Linked DNA regions of Homo sapiens. The protein of the gene in region 1 purifies or fractionates together with the protein of each later gene. This does not show direct contact. Each region holds a gene or a part of one and is shown in the gene's direction. Other genes may lie near its edges.

Region 1 (3,500 bases):
ACACTAACTACCCTAACATGGGAGTTGTGGTTCCTGAAAAACAGGGGGCAGCCTCCTCTTTTTGCCCCCCACTGTCTGCCTCAGGTTGTGCAGGGCCAGGTACTATCTCCACCAAGCAGCAGGGGCCTGGAGTTGGGATCCCTGCCTCAGTCCTTCTAGGAGCAAGTGGTTTCACAGTGGAGGCCCAGCCCAGGCTGCCCTGAGTAGTAAGACAGGGTGGCCTCAGGGGCAGGACACAGCTTCCTTCCCATGTTCTCCTGCAGAGAAGCAGCGGGAGCTGGCCCGGAAGGGCTCCCTGAAGAATGGCAGCATGGGTAGCCCTGTCAACCAGCAACCCAAGAAGAACAATGTCATGGCCCGAACAAGGTAGAGGCCCTCCCTACCCCACCTGGACCCTGCCAGCCAGGACCTATTTCTGCTGGTCCTGAGCCTCCCCCTCTTCCCTCCCTCCTCAGGCCCAGCTCCTCTCTGAGAGGAGACAGCCTTAACAGGATCCAAGGTGGGGAGGGAGGGAAGAAAGTGGTGGGACGGGGCCCAACCCAGTCCCTTGCCAGGTTTCTATGCTCCACTTTGCCACTCTAACTCCCGAAATTCTTCACCTAGGCTGGTCGTCCCCAATAAAGGCTACTCCTCACTTGACCAGAGCCCTGATGAGAAGCCACTGGTAGCCCTTGACACGGACAGGTGTGTATGGGGGCTTGGGGGTAGCTGGGCAGCCCAAAGGAACCTGTATAGCACAAGTGGGCTGTACAGGCCACACCTGCTATATTGTCAGAATTGGGATATTCTTCAGCCAGAATCTCTCCAAGGGTGAATTCTCCAGGGATGGGAATTTTTTTACACCAGGGACTGGGGGTTGAAGAGAGGTGGCAGAGAGAGGAAAGGGGGGCCTGCGTTGTCTGCTGTCATCCTGGGACAACTGATCCAATGGTTGTCCCTAATTGGCCTGTGATGTTGTCTCTGGACAGCAGAATATGATGCTTAATGCCCCATCCCCTCAGGAAGGAGCCCTACTCCCTGGAAAACACCTGGCTAGACTTGGACTTTGGGAATATCCTACAAGTCAGGGTGATTTGAGTCTACAAAAAAAAAAAAAAAGATGAGAAGGGGGTGAAAGGAGTAACTGCTATATTTAGAAGGAGGTTAAGGATAGCAATTGATTTTAAGGGTGGGGCTAGGGAACTTGTCTTTAAAATCCTGCATTTGCACAGCAAGCACAGTTCGTATTGAGATTTTGCTATTTGGAACTGTAAGGGAGGTATAGGATGCTGCCTAATGGGAGGTGGGATTGCAGAGAGTTTTCTATGTAATTTCTTGGTATCACTTTCCCTCTCTTTCCTCCATGGCCAGCGATGATGACTTTGACATGTCTAGATACTCCTCCTCCGGCTACTCCTCTGCTGAGGTGAGCCCCTACCCCTTCTCACCCTAGACACCACCGGGCAGGATCACTGCCATCCCGGGGGAGGGCTGGGGCCAATGCCCAAGTACAAGGAAAAAGAGGGCTGGGCAAGGCTGGGTGGTGCCCTGCACAGGGTGGGCCTGGGATAGGATGGAAGAGAAGTGGTTACTGGCCTCAAGTGCATGGAGCCCAGGGTTAGGAGTGGGGCTTTAGATTGCAGCAGGCCATTTAAATAGAATGGGTGTAAAATACAGGTGATATCCTCTAGTAGCCGGCCTGAGATAGGGGCAAAACCCGAATAGGAGCAGGACCAGAGGTGTGAAGTTGACCATAGAATGGGGAGGGGTGACTAGAAAGAGAGGCCAGAGGCGAAGGAGGGCGCCTAGGCAGGAGCGGGGCCTGGGGGTACAGACAGACCCGGGACAGGGCGGGGCTGATATCCAGGGCACTGGCTGGACTGGGGCGCAGACGGCCTGGAGTGGCCGCAGAGCTGTGGGTGGTGCCTCCCTGCCGCTCGGGCCTGACCTCCCTCCCCTTTGCCTACAGCAGATCAACCAAGATTTGAACATCCAGCTGCTGAAGGACGGCTACCGGTTAGATGAGATCCCCGACGACGAGGACCTAGACCTCATCCCCCCCAAGTCCGTGAACCCCACGTGCATGTGCTGCCAGGCCACGTCCTCCACCGCCTGCCACATTCAGTAGCGGGCGGGGCCACTGCGGTCGCCGGGGCGGGGCCGCCAAGGGCCGGGTAGGACGGGCAGAGGCCGACCCCTTCCCAGCTCGTCTGCCTGCCCCCGGCCCCGCGCCCCTACAGCCGCCAACCTCGTATAACAGTCATTGCTTCCTCCTATGGTAGGACGTGTACCTCTGTGTGTTCATGGAGCTGGAGAAACCAAAACTGGGTCTCTCTCCACCCGGGAGCTGAGGAGGGGTGGGGGCCGTTTGTTCAGTTACCTGGGGGAACCTCACCCAGCACCCTGCCCCGCTTCCCAGGGCTGGCCAAGAGAGAAGACTGGACGGCAGGGAGGTCAACATTAACGAGTGGGGGGATCACAAAGCCAGGGGCTTGGCCCCACCCCAGCGAAGCCATGAACTCCCAAGCCCCGGCCTCAGCCTAACCAGGAAAGGGGCTCGGAGGGAGAAAGGCCCAGGGCAGTGGGGACGGGTCCCAGCACCTCGGAGCCCCCTTCACACGCCCCCTACCGGCCCATGTTTCTATTTGCATTTCCCCCTCCTCAGATGGGAAGCCTGGCAAAGCTGCCCAACCGGGTAGTGCCCCTCACCCATCGGATCACTGCCTTCTTCCTCCTCTTGCCCCATTCACCCGCTTCCTTGCACTCTGGGAGTGGGGCAGGGTAAGGTGGGCCTTACAGACAGGCTGAGGTTTGGGTGGTGTGATCTGTCCTAATTGGCCCCTCACCAATGCATCTATCTGTCTGCCACCAGCCCACCCCACCCTGCCCCCACCCTCACCCACGCTTCTGCTCATTGGTCTCAATCCCAGCCTGGAAGCAGGGAGTAAGGCTGGACTCCAATGGCCCATTCCCCTCACCCCAGCCCAAGACGTGGGAGGCTGCTTCCCAGTAAGAATCCAGGAGCAAGCTTTGGTGAATCCAGTGGGCTGAGTGGCTCTATGGATGTGGTTGTTTGGATGTGGTAGGGAGTGCTTAGCAGAATGTGTGTGTATCTCTGAGGCTGTCAGGGGGTGGGTGGGTGTGTGTCTCTGTTGGACCTGTCTCTCCTCAGTCTATTCCTGTCATAGATGTGGGTGTCCCTGGTAGGGAAGTGCCTGTGTGGTCTGTTTACAGTGCAGAAGGCGGCTCAGCAGTGCAATGGGCTGACAGCCTTGGACCGGGAGTCAGAAGCCTGGGTTCTGGTTGTAGCTCTGGCCCCTCCCTGTGATCTTCAACAAGCCACTTGCTTTCTCTCGTCTTCAGTTTCCTCAACTAGAAAATGAACAGCAGCTGAAATTATGTTGAAGATCCTTTTATACCTGAAAGAGTTTCTTCATAGAAATTTCTGTGGTGGGGAGGGGGCAATCTCTGTGTGTCTCAGTATACCTAAAGGTTGGGGTGGGGCGGAGTTGTGTGTCTCT
Region 2 (3,108 bases), on another chromosome or scaffold:
AGAATATAGTACTCCCTTTTACTCTAAAAAATATCCCAGTTTGGACAATAAAATACATAATTACTCTAGTTATATTATTTGCTTTACTTCTAAAAATGTAAGAAATTGAATTTTTTTAAAGAAAAATGTTGGTTCCTGCCTTGATCTAAGTCTCATCCAAAGGAAATAAATAGTCACTAGTTTTTTATCTTACAACTCAGGACATTTGTCTTTGGTTATTAATGGAAATTAGTATGTGATTACTTTCATAGTTATGCCACAAATCACATTGAAGAAGGAATCATTCCGACCTCTGTTCCAGGACAAGAGCTAGAACAATCCATTTCTTGTCCTTTGATTTGAGAGTCACAGTCAGGGTGGCTTCTGCCACCCTTAGTAACTCAGAGCAGAGGCCAGCCCCCTCCTTCCCTCACTTTCTTTTGCTGAGTCCTTTGCCCACCTGTCAAGGTGGCAGGCACTGTGCTGGGTACAGGAGGACAGTCAGACATGTCCCTTCTTAGCTATAGTCGAGCTGTCTGGGAAACAGGATGAAAAACAGGAGGGTTATTTTCTTGTGCCCTCTTTGTCAGCTGATCCCCTCTTCTGCTACCAGCTATTTGGCCAGCAAGCCGTTTTTAGTCCCCACTTTGCCCATTTTTCTGTTTTGGTTCATCGTTTCTTAAAAGCCATGTTATAAAACATGGTAGTTTGAATCCTGTTGCTAATTTTAAACTTTCCTCTAAAATGTACTGAATTTTGACAAAAATTTGAAAATATCCTCAGCTAACTAGAATAAAAAGGATCATAAAACAATGATTTTAAAACTGAAATCTCTAGAAACTCAACATCCAAGTCAGCCGCATTTCTTCATTCAGAGTGTGTGTGTCACACCTGCCAAGGTGCTGCGTACTCTGCTAACCGAGCTAGAGTAGTGAGCAAAGCCATTTTCTCTGATCACAAGATTTTACATTTTTCTGGGATTTTGACCTGCAAAGTAGTCTCGTAAGAGCATTTGAGAGACTTACTTGGAACTGCCTTCAGAATCTATAGAGCCTTTTTTCTCTTTTTCCTCTAAAATGAAAAGAGCTTCATTTTATGATTATAACAAAAGTGACACTGTAAGCAGTTAGAACATTAAGAAGTATAAATAAAAAGTAAAAATCATCTACAACCCTACCATACTCAGAAGGAGAAAAGAACTGTCATGTATGTATACACACATACCTATGTAATTTTAATATAAATAGAATTATGTTCTACATGCTGTTTTATTTCCTCAACAGTAAATTATGGACATGTCTGAAATGTGAAATAAATTTCAAAATAAGGCTTCAGAAAGTGTAGTAAGTAATCTCTGCATTATTAAAAATAAGCAGGGTAGGGCTGGTACTTGGCTCGCTTAGCATTTGAATGTCCAACTTGGTGTTATCACTGTATCTTCCCTCCATTTGTCTTTGTGATTAGCATGTAAAATGGTATTCATAAAGATCACAACCCTTGAATATCAGATGAAGAGAAAACTTGACTCCAACATCTTACCACAACTCTGGTTTCTTCCTGCAGAATTCATTTTCAGAGGAAAATGATGAATCATCCCTGTCTGTGAACCACTGTGCTTTCCTTGAGGGTGGCATTGTAGGTTGACACCAGCAAAGACTCAGAGTGACTTGAGCATTGGAGATCCTTCTACTTGGCTGCTGTATTCATGCATTATGTTGGTTTGAGAATAGCTAGTGTATTGATCCAAGTAGTCAAAGTGTCTTAAAAGGACACCTATTTGTCCTTTTGAGCCCCAGCTGAGTGAATACTGATAGTGGACTAGAAAAGCATAGTCAAGAAAAGTGACCCACCTTGTTACTTGACCAGCAGTCTAGCTGAGAGATCTGATTTTATGTTCGTAACTTTCTGTAAAGAAAGACACAAGGACTTTTCAAAGACAGTTTATATCTTTCCAAGGCAGGAAGCTTTGCATTTGCAATCTTAGTGTTGTGTCCCTTTCTGATTTTCAAATACATCACACCTGCCTTCCTGTTTTGGGAGCAAAGATGTAATTTCAATTCCCCTTGCTACCGTCCTTATTTAAATTATTTCCATTCTAAGAGATTTTTGTTATTTTTTTAAATGTAATCTGAGCACTTTTTTGTATTCTAAAAGATAGATGATATCAGATAAATATGTTGTACATTTGATTAAAATTATTTAGATAAATATTACTATGTTGACTTTTAAATAGCTTTATCCTATTTTTCATTCATTTTGCAAATATTTGTTGTGTGTAGTTTCTTAACGTGTCAGAATCTATTATGTAAAAGAACCTTTCCAGATTTCTGAACAGTATATGCTTTGATTTTATAGGCTTTATATTATTTCAGTATGAATAAAGATAAGGAATATGAAACAGTTAACTAAAATGTATCTGTCGTTGCTAACTTGAAAAATGAAGTAGAAACAGTTGGAAAATGTTTGAATTAGAAGTTATTCAAGTGCACACTCTTTTCTAAAAGAAAGCCAATGACTATAAGGCAAAAGAAGTTTGACTGCATGTGGTATTTTTTGCTCTTGTATATGCTTTTTGAACAAGCTATTTGATAAAGCCTGAATGGAAAAAATAAAGCTGTTTCTATCTGCAGTGGCTCTTGGTGGTCATTACTTAAAAGACATATGTTTTCATCTTTAAATTCCTGAACACATTTCACCTGCTGTGAATATGTAGAAAACAGAGGTAAAACATTGGCTATATGAGTCATAAAATTTAATTTTCACTAAATGGAGTTCCAGACCATGTGGTTATCTAAATCAAAGTACGGTGGATTCCTTTCTCAGAGAGTAAAGTAAATCCCATTTTAAGCCAGAAGTCTGGATTTTCACAAGATAAATTAGGGAATAGACTTTTATAACCCAAAGGGATTCAAAATAGGACTTTATCAAATTCAAATATAATTTATCTTAGAACGTTTACAGAGAAATTTTAAAAAATATAAAGTGTGCTTTAATTGTTCATAATAGTCTGTGGTATATTTATGCAATACATTTACTAGTGTTTTATCTCTTTACAGTAAAGAGGGTCCTGGTAGGTTGGTGATAAAATGAATCCTATTTCCAAGTGATTTAAATATTAGTTACAATTCC
Region 3 (3,500 bases), on another chromosome or scaffold:
CTTTTTGTATTTTTTGTAGAGATGGTATTTCACCATGTTGGCCAGGCTGGTCTTGAACTCCTGGCTTCAAGCAGTCTACCTGCCTCAGCCTCCCAAAGAGCTGGGATTATAGGCGTGAGCCACAGTGTGGTGCCTGGCCTGTGTTGTGGGAGGTTTTTAGGTTTTCTGATCTGTGGTAGCCAGAAATTGAACCACGTGAATGTCTGGTTGAATAGTGTTACTCTCTTCAGTAGCTTGCTTTTTTCCCCTTAACATATTTATGGATACTATCTCAAAAGTAGAACTGCTTCATTTTTAAAGTTAAATAGTATTTCATTGTATTTCCATGTTTTTGTAATGTACTATGATTTTTGCGGTCAGTCCCTACTGATAGACATTTAAATTGTTTCCAGACTTGGGCTGTTGTAAACATTGTTGCAGTCAGTATTCTTGTATACACTTGTTCATATGTGTGTGAGCTTATGTATGAGGATACATTCCTAGAAGTTATATCTTGGTTGAAGGAAATTTGCAAATTCAACTTTGATAGAACCCTCCAAAGAAATTAATTTACATTCCTGCCAACAATGTATGAAACAATTTGTTTCCCCATATTCTGGCAGTATATATGGTGGTATCAGTGTTTCTGATCTTTGCTGCTCTCATAAGTGAAAAGTTATATCCCATTTCATCTGTTATCTCCCTGTCCCACTGCTTTTTCGTCCCAGCCAGGACTATTTTGAAGCAAATATCAGATACCTTATAATTTAATTTAAAAATATTTGAGTATGCATCTCAGTAAAGAGATGTGAACTCTAAAACATAACTCAAATGTCCATCAGCAGATGAATGGGTAAGCAATATGTGGAATATACGTACAATGGAATATTTAACCTTAAAAAGTAATAAAATTCTGACACATTAGAATGTTACAATGTAGATAAACCTTGAAGACCTTATGCCAAATGAAATAGGCCCAGCACAAAAGAACAAATGCTTGTATGCTTCGGTCTATATGAAGTGCCCGGAATAGTCAAATTCATACAGACAGAAAGTAGAATAGTGATTATCAGAGGCCAAGGGAAGGGGAGATTGGGGAGTTATTTTTTTAACAGGTACAGAGTTTCAGTTTGGGAAGATGAAAAAGTCCTTGAGATCGATGGTTGTGATGGTTGCAAAACAATGTGAATGTACTTAATGCCACTAAAACTGTACACTTAAGATGTTTTAAATGGTAAATTTTATGTTATTTATATTTTACCACAATTAAAAAATAATGTCAGGTATGGTGGCTCGCACCTGTAGTCCCAGCTACTCCCGAGGCTGAGTTGGGAGTATTGCTTGAGGCTGGGAGTAAGAGGCTGCAGTGGATTATGATCACACCTGGGAATAGTCACTGCACTCCAGCCTCAGCAACATGAAGTGACCTCATCTCTTGAAAAGAAAGCAAAAAACAAACAACTCCCCCAAAACCACAATACCAATACTACACCTAAAATATTCATATTTTGTTTGTTTGTTTGTTTTGATATGGAGTCTCACTCTGTTGCCAGGCTGGAGTGCAGTTGCATGATCTCGGCTCACTGCAACCTCTGCCTCCTGAGTTCAAGCGGTTCTCCTGTCTCAGCCTCCCTAGTAGCAGGGACTACAGGTGCATGCCACCATGCCCAGCTAATTTTTGTATTTTTAGTAGAGGTGGGGTTTCACCATATTGGTCAGGCTGGTCTGGAACTCCTGACCTCAGGCAATCCACCTGCCTTGGCCTCCCAAAGTGCTGGGATTACAGGCGTGAGCCACCGTGCGTGGCCTAATTTTTAAATCATTATAAAACTCAGTTAAAACTATTTTCAATTATGAAACAATTTGAATTTACAGAAAAGTACAAAAGTAGTATAACAGATACCTTTGTACTTACCATTGAGATGAATAGATATTAACCTTTTGCCATGTTTGCTCTAGAGTTGCTTTTAGTCAAAAAACCAAAGAAAGGTCAACCCACCTTTCCCTTTCTCTTTTCCTCTCCAGACGTTAACCATTTTCCTGAAATTCCTGTGTGCACTGTCTCTCTCTCTCTCTCTCTCTCTCTCTCTCTCTCTCTCTCTCTCTCTCTCTATATATATATATATATATATATATTTTTTTTTTTTTTTTTTTTTTTTTTGAGATGGAAACTCGCTCTGTCCCCATCAGACTCAGGCTGGAGTGCAATGGTGCGATCTCGGCTCACTGCAACCTCCGCCTCCTGAGTTCAAGCAATTCTCCTGCCTCAGCCGCCTGAGTAGCTGGGATTACAGGCGGCCGCCACCATGCCTAGCTAATTTTCATATTTTTAGTAGAGATGGGGGTTTCACCATATTGGCCAGGCTGGTCTCGAACTCCTGACCTCCGGTGATCTTCCCGCCTCAGCCTCCCAGAGTGCTGGAATTACAGGCATGGGCTACCACGCCTGGCCCCACCAGGAATTTGAGGTCTTGTTTTTCTGCTTATTGAAACTTGGTGTTAATGAGAACACATGGACACCACGAAGGGAACAACACACACAGGGGCCTGTTGGGTCGGGGGCAGGGAGAGGGAGAGCATCAGAAAAAATAGCTAATGCATGCTGGGCTTCATACCTAGTTGATGAGTTGATAGGTGCAGCAAACCACCACAGCAACCATTTACCTATGTAACCTGTACATCCTGCACATGTAATTCAGAACTTAAAAAAAAAAAAACCAAAAGACACTTGGTGTTATATATATAAATTTATAATATTTTACCAATCTGTTGGATACAAACATCTTTTTAAAATTTATATTTTCTTGACTAGTAAAGTTGAACATCTTTTCATATGTTTTGGGGCCATTTGGGCTTCTTTCTTGGTGAACTGCTGGTTCATATTATTTGCCTGTTTTGTTTTTCTGTTTTACTGAGTTTTAAGAATGCTGTACATACTCTAGATGCTGATCCTTTGTTGTATAAATACTTAATTTCATCTTCTAGTTTGTGTCTTGTCTTTTTACCTTGAAATATATAATTTTGTTGTAAACGATTTTAAATTAAAAATGTAGTTTTTCTTCTACAGTTTGTATTATTTGTATCTTGTTAAAGAAATCTTCTTCACCTTGGTTTAAAAAAATGCTTATATGTTTTCTACTGAAAGATTTAAGGTTTTTCATTGTACACTTAGGTCTTTTGTCCATCTGGAATTTATTTTTACATGTAGTATGAGATTGAGGTCTGTATTAGTCTGTTTTCGCACTGCTATAAAGAACTGCCTGAACGGGCCCGGAGGCTCACGCCTGTAATCCCAGCACTTTGGGAAGCCGAGGCAGGTGAATCACCTGAGGTCGGGAGTTCGAGACCAGCCTGACCAACATGGAGAAACCCCATCTCTACTAAAAATACAAAATTAGCCGGGTGTGGTGGCGTGTGGCTGTAATCCCAGCTTCTCGGGAGGCTGAGGCAAGAGAATTGCTTGAACCTGGGAGGCAGAGGTTGCGGTGAGCCGCGATCACGCCATTGCACTCCAGCCTGGG
Region 4 (3,500 bases), on another chromosome or scaffold:
GTGCACCTGTAATCCCAGATACTCAGGAGGCTGAGGCAGGAGAATTGCTTGAACCCAGGAGGTGGAGGTTGCAGTGAGCTGAGAGCACGCTATTGTACTTCAGCCTGGGTGACAGAGTGAGCCTCCGTCTCAAAATAATACTACTACTAATAATTACATGTTATTTTATGTAAATCCCATTTAGAAATTGGGAACCAGAACTAGAAACCATTTTCTCAAACCCAAAAGGAAATTATGCGGGAATCTGGTGGCTATTTTGTACTGTTTTCCACTTGTACCTTTATTTCTGTGGTGCATGTAGTCTGGCTAGAGAAATCCATTTCATTGGTTATCTCCATGTTTCTTTCTCTCCTCAGATGCAGACAGACATGCTGAACTATCTGGAAGTCCACTGAAAAGCAAAAGCACTAGGAAGCCTTTGGCATGTATCATTGGGTATTTAGGTGGGTATTTTCTAATAGAGGAAAAACTCAAAGAGCAATTTCTGAATAGTATAGATATTTGGCAATTCTAAATGGACATACCTAAACTAATTCAGGCCCTTCAAATAGCCGAAATTGGATACCTTTATATAGTCAGTTTATTTTGTTTCAGAAACTTTTATTACCAGCACACACAACACACACACATACACACACAGATTTATGATATATGTCTACTTTTTCCAAAAAGCCATCGAATAAAAATGTAATATATATTCATGGAAATAAATACAGATTAAGCAAAAAAGAAAATGAAAAGCATTCAGTTAGTACTTAGGATGAATAGTCTTAATATTCTTCTTCAGATCCCTTCCCTGTTTCTAACTCACCTCACCTCTTTTTAAATAGAAGATTTATTTACTTATTAAAATGAGATCAAACTGGTTTATAACTTATCTTAAAATAATTATAGGTTTTAATTTTTTATTTTATTTGTTTTTTGTAGAGACAGGGTCTCGCTTTGTTGCCCAGGCTGGTCTCAAACTCCTGGCCTCAAGCGATCTTCCTGCCTTGACTTCCCAAAGTGCTGGGATTACAGATGTGAGCCACTGCTTCAAGCCTTAAATATTTATAGTTTTGGTGTGCTTTAGGTGACTTTGAAGGGGAGGCATTTGTATTGCTTTCTTATTTTTATCATGCCATCTGACTTGGAAATCTCCAAAGATGATAGCTCCATTTTTATGTTGAAATATCACAATTAAGAATAGTATACAAAATTACTATGCAATAATCTCTTTGTTTAAACAAAGTTTTAAGAGAAATAACTTACAAAATAATGGTTTTTCACATACCTAGAAGCAAGAATGGCATGTTTTTGTGCTTCTCATAGTTCTTTTTCAGTAAAGTGAAATATGTACTCAGAGTTGCTTTGACAGAAAGATTTATAATTATGAAATGTTCAGACTGCAGACATCAACTCTTTTAAAAATCAAAGTGTAGTCTTGAATTTGGTATATTATCTAGTCCTTACCCAAAAGAATGTTCCAGGATTCAGAGGCTCAAAGCTTCTTCTTTGATGTTACTGTACTACCTTATTCCTTGCTTTATTTATTTATTTATTTATTTATTTTATTTATTTATTTTTTTTGAGACGGAATCTCACTCTTCTGTCCAAGCTGGAGTGCAGTGGCGCAATCTCGGCTCACTGCAAGCTCCGCCTCCCAGGTTCACGCCATTCTCCTGCCTCAGCCTCCTGAGTAGGTGGGACTACAGGCATCCGCCACCACGTCCAGCTAATTTTTGTATTTTTAGTAGAGACGGGGTTTCACCTTGTTAGCCAGGAGGGTCTCAATCTCCTGACCTCATGATCCGCCCACCTCGGCCTCCCAGAGTGCTGGGATTACAGGCATGAGCCACTGCGTCCGGCCATTTCTTGCTTTATTTCTCAGGGGTTAAAGAGTTGTTTTGATATCCCCTGAAAATGTCACATGGTTATTGTACACATGACCTACGTAATGGTGGTAATGTCCTTGAAGAGTGCGGTCTGTATTCCCTTGCAGAACTGTCTCCAGATGCCCCTTCCCACCTTGCATGGGAAAGTTTCTGATCACAAAAAATAGAATAGGCCGGGCATGGTGGCTCATGCCTGTAATCCCAGTACTTTGAGAGGCAGGCGGATTGCTTGAGTCCAGGAGTTTGAGCCTGGGTAACATAGCAAAACCCTGTCTCTACCAAAAATACAAATATTAGGCAGGTGTGGTGGTGCGTGCCTGTGGTCCCAACTACTCAGGAGACTGAGGTGGGAGGATTGACCGCTTGAGCCCAGGAGGCAGAGGTTGCAGTGAGCCAAGATTGTGCCACCACACTCCAGTCCAAGTGACCAATTGAGACCCTGTCTCAAAAAAAAAAAAAAAAAAAAAAAGAAAAGAAAAGAAAAAAAGAATATAACATTATTAGCCTTTCCAAGAATAATTGTGTGCTCCTACTGTGGGCAAATTGGTCTCTATATCTACCAGATAGGCCCAGACTGTGCTGTTCTTACCAGCTGAACCACATCCCTACACAATATATTTATGAGTATTTATATGTTGAAAACACTGTACTAAGTGATTTGGGGAACACCAAGATGGGTAAGACCTTGCCCTCAAAATTCTTAGTGTAGTGGGGAAAGCAAGCAGGTAAGAACAATAAAACAAAGGATTAGATCCTGTAAAATAATTACAGGTAATATGCGTTGGGCACTTGGAGGAAGGACTGTTCTTTTTCTTTTTCTTTTTCTTTTTTTTTTTTTTTGAGATAGAGTCTCACTCTGTCACCCAGGCTGGAATACAATGTCTCCATCTTGGCTCACTGCAACCTCCACTTCCCAGGCTCAGGTGATCCTCCCACTTAAGCCTCCTGAATGGCTGGGACTACAGGTGTGCACCACCACACTTGGCTAATTTTTAAAAATTTTTGTAGAGACAGGGTTTCACCATGTTGCTCAGGCTGGTCTCGAACTCCTGGACTCATGCAGTCTGCCCACCTTGGCCTCCCAAAGTACTGGGATTACGGATGTGAGCCACTGCACCTGGCCAATGAGGGAATTTTTTCTAATGAGCGTTAGGGCAGCCTACCTGAAGAAAGTAATAGTTAATTTCAGCCTTAAAAGATATTTAGGATTCGAATAGGTAGAAAAATAGGAAAAGCGTATTCTCTTCCCTCATAAGGCCAAGACAACCAGATGAACAAAGGCTTCAGTGAGTCCAAGGACTTGAAAGCAGCTTGTTTGGTCTAGATGGAGCATAGACTGTGGAGGTTAAATGAAATGCAAGGCTGGCAAACTTGTCATGTCATGTTGGAGAAAAAAAAATCACTTTTTTCGGTGGTAGTATTTAAGCCATTTCTAAATTTTGGCAAGTGTGGGACTTTGACCAGAGCTGTAGTAATTCTAACAATTCCAATGGCTTTTCCTAAATTCCAGTAAATAAGGGTGATATCTCAGCCCTTACCTTCAGTGAAAGGGTGAGAAGGCAGGGTGGCTTGTGTGTAGTTGGCCAGCTGCATGATGACTCTGAGAATCAGTGAGCTGCTAAGCTT
Region 5 (3,197 bases), on another chromosome or scaffold:
GCTGTGGCCCGCTCCATTTCCACGTTTCACCTCCAAGAGGTGGTGTCTGTATGTGGTGGGTCTTTTTTTATGGGGTCTGGGTTGGCCTTGCCCTGTACGTGCCTAAGTCTGTCCACTCCACCAGCTGGGCCCTTCTGAGCGCCTGTGGGGAGGGGTGCCGGGGCTCTGCCCTCGTTTGCTGGATGCAGCCTCCGTGGCTGTGCAGTTTGTACCTGGTCGTGGGAGGGGCCGGTGAGCCTCGTGTTCACCCTGAGGAAGCCACTGCCAGAGGGGCCAACCCCGCCCCTTTCACCAGTCTCTGGACAGAGCCTGGATGTGAAGATGCTGCTTTTAAAGATGGAGATTGGCAAAGGACGTCGTCACCTGGCAGCGCCTCAGGACGCTGCTCACTGTGCGGGTAGCAGGCGGTTCCCTCATCTCAGGTCTGTGTTGCAGGGACTGTTTCAAGGCCTTCTACGTCCACAAGTTCAGAGCCATGCTGGGCAAGAACCGGCTCATCTTTCCAGGCGAGAAGGTAGCGTCTGGGTCCTGGGGGTCTGACTGAGCAGCCTGGCCCCTCGAGGTCCCTGCTTGTCCCTCCCACAGGCAGCCTGGCCTGCTGCAGCCCGCCAGCTCCTCCTTGGCCTTTGAGGACAGACTCGATGTCCTAGATGTCCACGAGGTGGGGTGTCTGCCTGTGTTGGAGGTGCGGTGCCCTGAGTGATGTTTTTTCTCCCCCAGGTGCTCTTGGCGTGGTCTGGGGGGCCTTCGTCCAGCTCCATGGTCTGGCAGGTTCTTGAGGTGCGTGTTCACCACCCCGTGGGCCCGGGCTGCTGGGCTGAGCTTCAGGCTGGGGGCCTCCCTTCTCAGCCTGCTGAGGGGCTCTTGGTTGGGGCTAGAGAGCAGTCCACCCTGCGGCCTGGACACTTGGGGGGTTCTCAGATGTGTTCACAACAGGTGCACCAATCAGGAGCTGAGTCCACAGTGTGTGTGTGCGGCCCACTCTCAGATGTGTTTACAGCAGGTGCACAAATCAGAAGCTGGGTCCACAGCGCGTGTGTGCGGCCCACTCTCAGATGTGTTTACAGCAGGTGCACAAATCAGAAGCTGGGTCCACAGTGCGTGTGTGCGGCCCACTCTCAGATGTGTTTACAGCAGGTGCACCAATCAGAAGCTGGGTCCAGAGTGCGTGTGTGCGGCCCACTTGACTTCTGTCCATTTGCTCAACCTGCGTAGAAACACAGTCAGTGGAAAGCTGCATCTTGGCTCAGCCATGTGTGACCCGAGGGAAGATTGGGAAAGGGGCGGGGGTTTGCCAGGAGAAGCAAAGGGAGCAGCGTTTGAGGTGGAGGCGGCGGCCCGCGCAGGGAGGTGGAGGCGGGCTTAGGCTGCACACAGGGCTCGGCTGGGGGTGGTGGGGCTGTGCCCGTGGCCTGTCAAGGGTCAGCTCAGGAAGTCTGAGGCAGGTCGGGCTTCTCAGGAGGGCACAGGAGCGGGATGTGCTTGGTTTCTCTGCACTCTCATGAGAGGTGCAGACCGGAGGAGGCTGTTTCTGTGGGCTGGGTGGTTGAGAGGAGAGGGGTCGGCTTTGCCGGGTTGAGGAGTGGGGTGTTGGTCTCAGGATGGGCGCATGGCACAACACTGCTGAAATTAGTTTTCTGTTTTCTGAGGTCCCCTGAACCTGCCAGGAGGGTGTTGTGAGGGAACTGGCCCAGCCCTCTGTGTAACGCTGGTGCTGCCCTTCCTGTGCCCAGCGGCGCCCCTGCCTCTTGCAGGCTGTTGGTTTCTGCTTGTGAGAGCAAGTGCTTCCTTAGTGGTCAGAAGCGTGTGGGATGGTGGCACAGTGGCCCCGTAACCCAGCCCCCTCTCCTGGGGCGTTGTTGGGACATCCAGGACCAGCTGGTGAGGGGCATGTTTTACCAGGGGGATGAAGACCCCCAGGCTACCCTTTAAAATAAGTCGGGCGTGCGGCCTCGCCTACTGGGCCTGCCCGGCACCTGAGTCTGAATGGCTTTGTCCAATAAACGCAATGGCAGGGGAAGACCACTTCACCTTCCAAGATGGCATTAAATCCAGATGAAGAATGTTCTGAGCTGGAAAAGTGTCCTGTGGCTTATGGCTGGGGGCTGAGTCCCTGCTGCTTCTCCCTCTAGGGCCTGAGCCAAGATTCTGCCAAAAGACTGCGCTTTGTGGCAGGAGTCATCTTTGTTGACGGTATGTGGGGCCATTGCTCCTCCTAGTCCCTGGCCACTTGGGGTAAGCCCTGCGGATCCTCCCTCTGGTGTGGACCCTCCCTCTGGTGCCGGTCCTCCCTCTGGTAGGATGTGTTGAGCTACTGGTGCTGCCCCTGCACTGAGGGCCTGGTGGGGACATCTCCCTGAAGGAGGCAGCAGATGTATCCATCGTTAGGTGGCATCACTGTTCCTGGAATCTAAGAACATCCTTAGAAAGTCGGGGGTGGGAGCAGGAGTGGCGGCTGCCCAGCCCCCATCACGGGGTCTGGGGACAAAGAAGGGCAAGTTAAGTGCTGATGGTGAGCGGGGGCCCAGGGGCCGACTCCCCGACCCTTGCTCCTGCAGAACGAACTCCTGGGGTGTTGACTGTAGCGCTGAGGTCAGCCGCAAGAGAGAAACCCCTGCCCAAAGGAAAATGGCCGACACCCCACAGCTCCGCCAGGAAGCACCGCCCTGCGGAGCGAGGCCTCGAAGGGTTTTCCCAGGTGGAGGTGGCCCTGCAGCCTGCCCTGCCTGGCTCCTCTCTGAGCCCTGACTCTTTCTGCCTGGGTTTTTCAGAGGGAGCAGCCTGTGGCCAGAGCCTAGAGGAGAGATCAAAGACCCTGGCCGAAGTGAAGCCCATTCTGCAAGCAACTGGGTTCCCATGGCATGTGGTGGCCTTAGAGGAGGTGGGAGGGCTGTCCCTGGAAAGGGGTCCCGGAGGTGACCCCTGGGGGGCACCTGCCCGTGTCCCAGCCTCACTGGCCTCTCCCTCATCCCAGAAGGCGGGGCTGTCGGTGGGGGGTGGGAGGCACCTGCCCGTGCCCCAGCCTCACTGCCGTCTCCCGCATCCCGGAAGGTGGGGCTGTCTGTGGGGGGCACCTGCCCGTGTCCCGGGCCTCACTGGCGTCTCCCTCATCCCGGAAGGTGTTCAGCCTGCCACCGTCGGTGCTTTGGTGCTCTGCCCAGGAGCTGGTGGGATCCGAGGGGGCCTACAAGGCGGCC
Region 6 (3,500 bases), on another chromosome or scaffold:
AGGCAGGAGAATCGCTTGAACCTGGGAGGCGGAGGTTGTAGTGAGCCAAGATCGTACCACTGTATTCCAGCCTGGGCGACAGAGTGAGACTCCGTCTCAAAAAATAATAATAATAATAATAATAATATAAATAAATAAATAAAAAGGCTTGATTTAAATTTACAAACCAACCTTCCCATCTCTTGTGGCCACAGTTCTTGGAGCCCTGCATTCTGGGTGGGCTGGGAGGCCCCTTGCGTGTGCACCCCAGCCCCGGGTTGAGAGGCCACTGTGTGCCTGTGTGTGCAACAGCCTCCGTCCAGCCTTGCACCCTGGCCTCACCTATGGGGCCCTGCAGCCCTTCCCCCTCCCCGTCCCAGCAGCTCCCCGCACCCGGGGAGGAGAGGCGCGGCCCGGCGCGCCGTGGGACCCCGTCTCAGAAAGGCCACACTTCCTCCCTGTAGGCGAGGAGGATGGCCGAGACCAGTCCAGGTTGGAGACCCAGGTGTGGGAGGCGCACAACCCACTCACAGACAAGCAGATCGACCAGTTCCTGGTGGTGGCCCGGTGAGTCCTGCTCCTGGGCAAGGCCAGCAGGGGTGGTGCCTGGAGCTTCTGTTCTCCCTTCCCTGTGGTGGGTGTTGGGGACGTGACAGTCTTGGATCCCATATCCCAACAAGAAGCCCATGCGCTGCAGCCCTGAGACCCCCGGTAGCAGTTCCCAGAGAGGCTCGGGAGTGCTGGGTCCAGGCCCTTCATTAAATAGAAGGGCGGCCCTTCTGGGGGGCAGGCCTGTGTGCCTGCCCATGTGTCCCTAATGGGGCTTTCCCAGGATGGGCCAGAGGTGCTTTCCCACTCCTGGGCCACTGGGAGCAAGTGGGCTGGGCCTGGTCATGGAGCAGAGCAGCTGCAGCCCGGGCAGACCCCTGGGGCAGGGCGAAGGCCGAGGCCCAGGAGAGGACCATGCACCTTCCCTGCCAGCAGCCTGGGAGGTGGAGAAAACCCCAAAAGAAGCCCCAAGGCGGCTGCCAATCTATCGGGATGCCCTCAGTTAGACGCACACGGGTTCTGGGGTGGGTGCCGGGCCCTACTCCGCAGCCTGGGGCCCAGGACACGAGGAGTCCTCGCCACCTGCGGGCTGCTCCCTGCGATGCTCATGCAGTCTGTCCCTGGTCCCTGGCGCCTGGGGAGCTGTGTGCCTGGGGGGAGTCCGCGCTGCCCGTGGCCCCTGGTCCCTGGTCCCTGGGGAGCTGTGTGCCTGGGGGGAGTCCGTGCTGCCCATGGCCCCTGGTCCCTGGCACCTGGGGAGCTGTGTGCCTGGGGGGAGTCCGCGCTGCCCGTGGCCCCTGGTCCCTGGTCCCTAGGGAGCTGTGTGCCTGGGGGGAGTCCGTGCTGCCCATGGCCCCTGGTCCCTGGCGCCTGGGGAGCTGTGTGCCTGGGGGCAGTCCGTGCTGCCCATGGCCCCTGGTCCCTGGTCCCTGGGGAGCTGTGTGCCTGGGGGGAGTCCGTGCTGCCCGTGGCCCCTGGTCCCTGGTCCCTGGGGAGCTGTGTGCCTGGGGGGAGTCCGTGCTGCCCATGGCCCCTGGTCCCTGGCGCCTGGGGAGCTGTGTGCCTGGGGGGAGTCCGTGCTGCCCATGGCCCCTGGTCCCTGGTCCCTGGGGAGCTGTGTGCCTGGGGGGAGTCCGTGCTGCCCGTGGCCCCTGGTCCCTGGCGCCTGGGGAGCTGTGTGCCTGGGGGCAGTCCGTGCTGCCCATGGCCCCTGGTCCCTGGCACCTGGGGAGCTGTGTGCCTGGGGGGAGTCCGCGCTGCCCGTGGCCCCTGGTCCCTGGTCCCTGGGGAGCTGTGTGCCTGGGGGGAGTCCGTGCTGCCCATGGCCCCTGGTCCCTGGCGCCTGGGGAGCTGTGTGCCTGGGGGCAGTCCGTGCTGCCCATGGCCCCTGGTCCCTGGTCCCTGGGGAGCTGTGTGCCTGGGGGGAGTCCGTGCTGCCCGTGGCCCCTGGTCCCTGGTCCCTGGGGAGCTGTGTGCCTGGGGGGAGTCCGTGCTGCCCATGGCCCCTGGTCCCTGGCGCCTGGGGAGCTGTGTGCCTGGGGGGAGTCCGTGCTGCCCGTGGCCCCTGGTCCCTGGCGCCTGGGGAGCTGTGTGCCTGGGGGAAGTCCGTGCTGCCCATGGCCCCTGGTCCCTGGCACCTGGGGAGCTGTGTGCCTGGGGGAAGTCCGTGCTGCCCATGGCCCCTGGTCCCTGGCACCTGGGGAGCGGTGTGCGTGGGGGAAGTCCGTGCTGCCCATGGCCCCTGGTCCCTGGCACCTGGGGAGCTGTGTGCCTGGGGGAAGTCCGTGCTGCCCATGGCCCCTGGTCCCTGGCACCTGGGGAGTGGTGTGCCTGGGGGAAGTCCGTGCTGCCCATGGCCCCTGGTCCCTGGCACCTGGGGAGTGGTGTGCCTTGGGGGAGTCCGTGCTGCCCGTGGCCGCTGGTCCCTGGCGCCTGGGGAGCGGTGTGCCTGTGGGGAGTCCCTGCTTGGCCGACACTGTGGTCAGCGCATCTCCTTTCCCCAGCTCTGTGGGCACCTTCGCACGGGCCCTGGACTGCAGCAGCTCCGTCCGACAGCCCAGCCTGCACATGAGCGCCGCAGCTGCCTCCCGAGACATCACCCTGGTAAGTGGGCCCAGGGCGGGACAGGTGAGACCTGGGGTGGCCCATGGCCCAGAGTGGCTGCGCCCTTCTTCCTACCAGGGCCCAGCACCTGCCCCAGGTATTCAGGACCCCTGCAGAGGTGCTGTCCCACCTGGACTGGCCTTTCCTATCCACCCCAAACTCGGCCAGACTGTGCTGAGGGTGCAGGGAGGGTTGTGCTGCTGGGCCTGCAGTAGGGGATCCTTGAGGTACTGAGGGAGGGGGTACCGTGCCACAGGTGCAGGAAAAGCCACCTTGGCCCGGGTGACCCTGCTGTCTCCTGCCGCAGTTCCACGCCATGGATACTCTCCACAAGAACATCTACGACATCTCCAAGGCCATCTCGGCGCTGGTGCCGCAGGGCGGGCCCGTGCTCTGCAGGGACGAGATGGAGGAGTGGTCTGCATCAGAGGCCAACCTTTTCGAGGAAGCCCTGGAAAAATATGGGAAGGATTTCACGGACATTCAGCAAGATTTTGTGAGTACCGTGGGTGGCGATGGGGGAGTGGCTGGCCATGCCCATCTCCAGGTAGGCTGCGGGGGTGTGGGCTCCACATCCCACTCTGCCCTGAGGGAGCCTGTCCTGCACCCTGATTCCCTGTGCGGAGCTGCATGAGTTCTGTCTCAGCTGCGCTCGGCCGCCATAGTCCTTCCTGTCACACTGGTTCAGCAGACAGGCATGGGGGCGCTGGTGGGGCCTGGGCATAGAGAGCCATGCTCCTGCCACCATTGCGTGATGAGGATAAGGGTTGGCCCAGGTGACGGAGGCCAGGGTATCCTCACGGAGACTTTCCCTTCCTTGCTGCCCCCTCCAGCCCCAGGCTTGGTTTTGCTTTGTTTTTGACTAAGCT
Region 7 (3,500 bases), on another chromosome or scaffold:
TGAACGCCTGACCTCAGATGATCCACCTGCCTCGGCCTCCCAAAGTGCTGGGATTACAGGCGTGAGCCACCACGTCTGGCTGAAACCTGTCACTCTTACACATCAGAGAAATCCTAAACCCCATGTGAATAGTGTGGTTGGCCATAATTTATATGGCTTATATCAAATGTCCTTATGAATGCTTATAATTACATAAAATTTATTCTTTCATTTTTATAGTCTGTTCGGCACTTGAAGTACTCCTTGTTTAAGAAATCACTACTGGGCAGTGTTTCGGATAATGGAATAGTAACTCTCTGGGATGTAAATAGTCAGAGTCCATACCATAACTTTGACAGTGTACACAAAGCTCCAGCGTCAGGCATCTGTTTTTCTCCTGTCAATGAATTGCTCTTTGTAACCATAGGCTTGGATAAAAGAATCATCCTCTATGACACTTCAAGTAAGAAGTAAGTGTGACATGCTTATTTCTTAATTTAGTAACAAATAGCTATTATTCCATTAACAGGCATATTTGTGATTTATATAGACCTCTGATTAGTGTCCAGGGGTCCTAAAGTTTGTACAGTTGATGGATCTAGTAAGAAAGAATTTTCTTCTTATGCAGAAAGAAATAGATGGGTTGCAGGTAGTATTTAGGGTACTTCTGAAACATGAACATAGAGAGATGACATCTTAATGATTTCACATTTTAATTTTAGCATCTTTTCCACAATATGATAAAATGCATATGTTTTTAACCCAAATGATTAATTTGCTTTAAAACTGATTAATTATCTAGAGGAAGGTTTAGAAACGATTGACATTTTGGGCTGGGTAATTCTTTGTTGTGAGGGGCTGTCCTGGGTATTGTAGGATATTCATCAGCATCCCTGGCCTCTGCTTACTAAATACCAATGGCCTAAATTGTGTCCAGACATTGTCAGATGTCCCCTGGTAGTAACCAGGGACAACCTGGGAGCACCCACTTGAGAAATACTGATTATGTACTGGTGTACATAATCCTCTAAGCATTTGGGCCCACTGTACCCTCTTCTTGTTAAATTTAGGTATGCTTAGTTAGCTAAAAAACAAAAACAAAAACAAAAGAATGCAAGAGTGATACAGTTGTATTCAAGATGCTTACCACTGTCTGTAGATCATGTGGAGTATGAATGTTACTACAAGGGAAGGTCCCACTGTCAGCCTTTATTATGATGCTAGAATTTTTACTGTTAGGACTTATTTGCTGTCTTCTTTTATGGAACAATTTACTGAGAGCCCAGTAAGCCATTCTTCTTTTCTACTATACACACCAGTAAAGAGCTCAGCTTCAGCAGATCACCATCCGTATTTCTTTATTAGCTTCCTAAGGATCAAGCATGTGAACTGTGTTCCTCTTAGCTTTTTGGCCAAGACTGTACAACTAAGAACAAAGTAACAGCTGCTCCCCTGTGAAAGGTCATAGTCCTCATGAGGCCTAAGCAGGTCAATAAATGGAAAGTGGATACTTAGGCCCTCCTCAACCATGAGGCCAGAGCCCCTGTTTGTGGCGTAATAGACAGTTCTGCTACATTCACTGTCAGAGTAATAATTAAAGAAATAGGTGCTGCTTCTATAAGATGCAGAATGTACCTATTGGAAGTGAATAGAAAAGTAAGATGGAATGTTTAGCAGTTCTCTATATGCCATTTTATTAGAAATGTCTCTAAGTCAAATTCTGAAATTATGCTTTAAACAAATATTTGGGATATGTGTGCTCTTTGACCAGTTTGAAGTGTTAATAACTCTGGTTTTGGTATATAGTTACTTATATAAGCTAATATACCTGTACACACTAACATTTCTACACATACTTTGTTCTCCTTTCCAAAGGCTAGTGAAAACTTTAGTGGCTGACACTCCTCTAACTGCGGTAGATTTCATGCCTGATGGAGCCACTTTGGCTATTGGATCTTCCCGGGGGAAAATATATCAATATGATTTAAGAATGTTGAAATCACCAGTTAAGACCATCAGTGCTCACAAGACATCTGTGCAGTGTATAGCATTTCAGTACTCCACTGTTCTTACTAAGGTGAGACATTTTCTTTTCAGCATTTTTTATTTTATTAAATAAATCTAACTCAGAATATGGAAATTATATGTGGTCAATTAAACAGTATAGTTTTGTTTCATAATTACATAATGATTTTACATGTAATGTATAATAATTTTAGTACAAAGCCATTTGATATTTAGTTTTAAAACTTTTTTTCTTTTTTTTTTCTCCTTATATATCTCTCTTTTTAAAAGTATTTTAAAAGACATTTTAATTTAGAGGGAAACTCAGGTCTGCCAGCAAGCTTAAGATTTGCAAGGAAAAAAATATATTTTTTAATCTAACAGGGAATTTATAAAATATTAATGTATAGTATGAAACATTAGTAACCTGAGCTTTTAAATATTCCATTACATTTCAGTCAAGTTTAAATAAAGGCTGTTCAAATAAGCCCACAACAGTGAACAAACGAAGTGTTAATGTGAATGCTGCTAGTGGAGGAGTTCAGAATTCCGGAATTGTCAGAGAAGCACCTGCCACGTCCATTGCCACAGTTCTACCACAACCTATGACATCAGCTATGGGGAAAGGAACAGTTGCTGTTCAAGAAAAAGCAGGTAAATGTTGCTTATATATTGTTGGAGGGTTGGTTTGTTTTTTTTTTGTTTTTTTGTTTTTGGCTTGCATATAATTAGCACATTCTTCAAGAACATAGAACTCAAATTTATTTGAGTACTTAGGTAAAATTAGTAGAAGTGAAAATCATTGAAGAAGTGAAAATAGTAACTTTGGCTATTAATTTCAAAAATGATAAAAGGCCCTTATTGTTTAGCTAAACTTCTCTTGTGAGAAATATTGTCTTAAAAATGGAAGGAGGCTAACTCAGAAATTATTCATCCTTAATACTACTAAAGACTGAATGGCTTTTCATTGTGTCTTCAGATTAACCAGTAGAAAATATGAAACTTTGACACTGTCTTATGATTTGATCTCATTAAATAAAAATAAATGAGAATGTTGCAATTTCTAATGATTTCTTCTTCTCTCATGTAATTGGCGAAACAGTTCTGAAACAGGATTCATTTAGACTTTATTGATGTGTTATATGATAAGCTTTCTCTTATTGTAGAAAATATTTCTTGCTCACAATAAAAAAATATTCTGTAAATTCCTGAAAACCTTTTCATTTTTATTTTAAGAAGTTATGCTATACTGTCAACGTGCAACAAATACTTTAGAAAGTCTACATGGTATACTAGTATGTTTCTGAAATATTGTGCTTAGTAGAAATACATATATCCATGTCTTTTAAATTTTTCAGGATAAATACTTGGGCAAAAATATTTATTGGTGTTTTTTTTTAGCATGATTTTGCTATTTCCAAGTAGAAGCAAAACTTTAATTTGTTGATCTTGATAGTGTGGAGTAGTATTTTAAAGTAAGTATATTCACTATAAATTTCCTGTGAATATCTGTATCA

Evidence for each region.
Region 2: the proteins of FAM219A (region 1) and ATE1 purify together in Homo sapiens (affinity purification with mass spectrometry; 3 studies listed by BioGRID and IntAct, with this or other methods). This does not show direct contact.
Region 3: the proteins of FAM219A (region 1) and UBR3 purify together in Homo sapiens (affinity purification with mass spectrometry; 3 studies listed by BioGRID and IntAct, with this or other methods). This does not show direct contact.
Region 4: the proteins of FAM219A (region 1) and MTA3 purify together in Homo sapiens (affinity purification with mass spectrometry; 3 studies listed by BioGRID and IntAct, with this or other methods). This does not show direct contact.
Region 5: the proteins of FAM219A (region 1) and CTU2 purify together in Homo sapiens (affinity purification with mass spectrometry, with the first as the bait; one large-scale study listed by BioGRID). This does not show direct contact.
Region 6: the proteins of FAM219A (region 1) and MTA1 purify together in Homo sapiens (affinity purification with mass spectrometry; 3 studies listed by BioGRID and IntAct, with this or other methods). This does not show direct contact.
Region 7: the proteins of FAM219A (region 1) and NEDD1 purify together in Homo sapiens (co-immunoprecipitation; one large-scale study listed by IntAct). This does not show direct contact.

What each region holds. Positions count from the first base shown.
Region 1 is NC_000009.12:34,399,571-34,403,070, reverse strand, and holds part of FAM219A (protein FAM219A), read left to right. Parts: intron 1-263; coding exon 264-366; intron 367-603; coding exon 604-684; intron 685-1,350; coding exon 1,351-1,405; intron 1,406-1,948; coding exon 1,949-2,107; 3' UTR 2,108-3,500.
Region 2 is NC_000010.11:121,739,924-121,743,031, reverse strand, and holds the end of ATE1 (arginyl-tRNA--protein transferase 1), read left to right. Parts: 3' UTR 1-2,608; downstream 2,609-3,108. UniProt on the Homo sapiens protein: Involved in the post-translational conjugation of arginine to the N-terminal aspartate or glutamate of a protein. This arginylation is required for degradation of the protein via the ubiquitin pathway. Does not arginylate cysteine residues.
Region 3 is NC_000002.12:169,833,954-169,837,453, forward strand, and holds part of UBR3 (E3 ubiquitin-protein ligase UBR3), read left to right. Parts: intron 1-3,500. UniProt on the Homo sapiens protein: E3 ubiquitin-protein ligase which is a component of the N-end rule pathway. Does not bind to proteins bearing specific N-terminal residues that are destabilizing according to the N-end rule, leading to their ubiquitination and subsequent degradation.
Region 4 is NC_000002.12:42,718,632-42,722,131, forward strand, and holds part of MTA3 (metastasis-associated protein MTA3), read left to right. Parts: intron 1-356; coding exon 357-443; intron 444-3,500. UniProt on the Homo sapiens protein: Acts as a component of the histone deacetylase NuRD complex which participates in the remodeling of chromatin.
Region 5 is NC_000016.10:88,709,503-88,712,699, forward strand, and holds part of CTU2 (cytoplasmic tRNA 2-thiolation protein 2), read left to right. Parts: intron 1-435; coding exon 436-514; intron 515-720; coding exon 721-780; intron 781-2,132; coding exon 2,133-2,193; intron 2,194-2,558; coding exon of another isoform or gene 2,559-2,771; coding exon 2,772-2,881; intron 2,882-3,119; coding exon 3,120-3,197. UniProt on the Homo sapiens protein: Plays a central role in 2-thiolation of mcm(5)S(2)U at tRNA wobble positions of tRNA(Lys), tRNA(Glu) and tRNA(Gln). May act by forming a heterodimer with CTU1/ATPBD3 that ligates sulfur from thiocarboxylated URM1 onto the uridine of tRNAs at wobble position.
Region 6 is NC_000014.9:105,457,827-105,461,326, forward strand, and holds part of MTA1 (metastasis-associated protein MTA1), read left to right. Parts: intron 1-443; coding exon 444-546; intron 547-2,531; coding exon 2,532-2,631; intron 2,632-2,938; coding exon 2,939-3,127; intron 3,128-3,500. UniProt on the Homo sapiens protein: Transcriptional coregulator which can act as both a transcriptional corepressor and coactivator. Acts as a component of the histone deacetylase NuRD complex which participates in the remodeling of chromatin.
Region 7 is NC_000012.12:96,934,757-96,938,256, forward strand, and holds part of NEDD1 (protein NEDD1), read left to right. Parts: intron 1-219; coding exon 220-449; intron 450-1,854; coding exon 1,855-2,056; intron 2,057-2,441; coding exon 2,442-2,637; intron 2,638-3,500. UniProt on the Homo sapiens protein: Required for mitosis progression. Promotes the nucleation of microtubules from the spindle.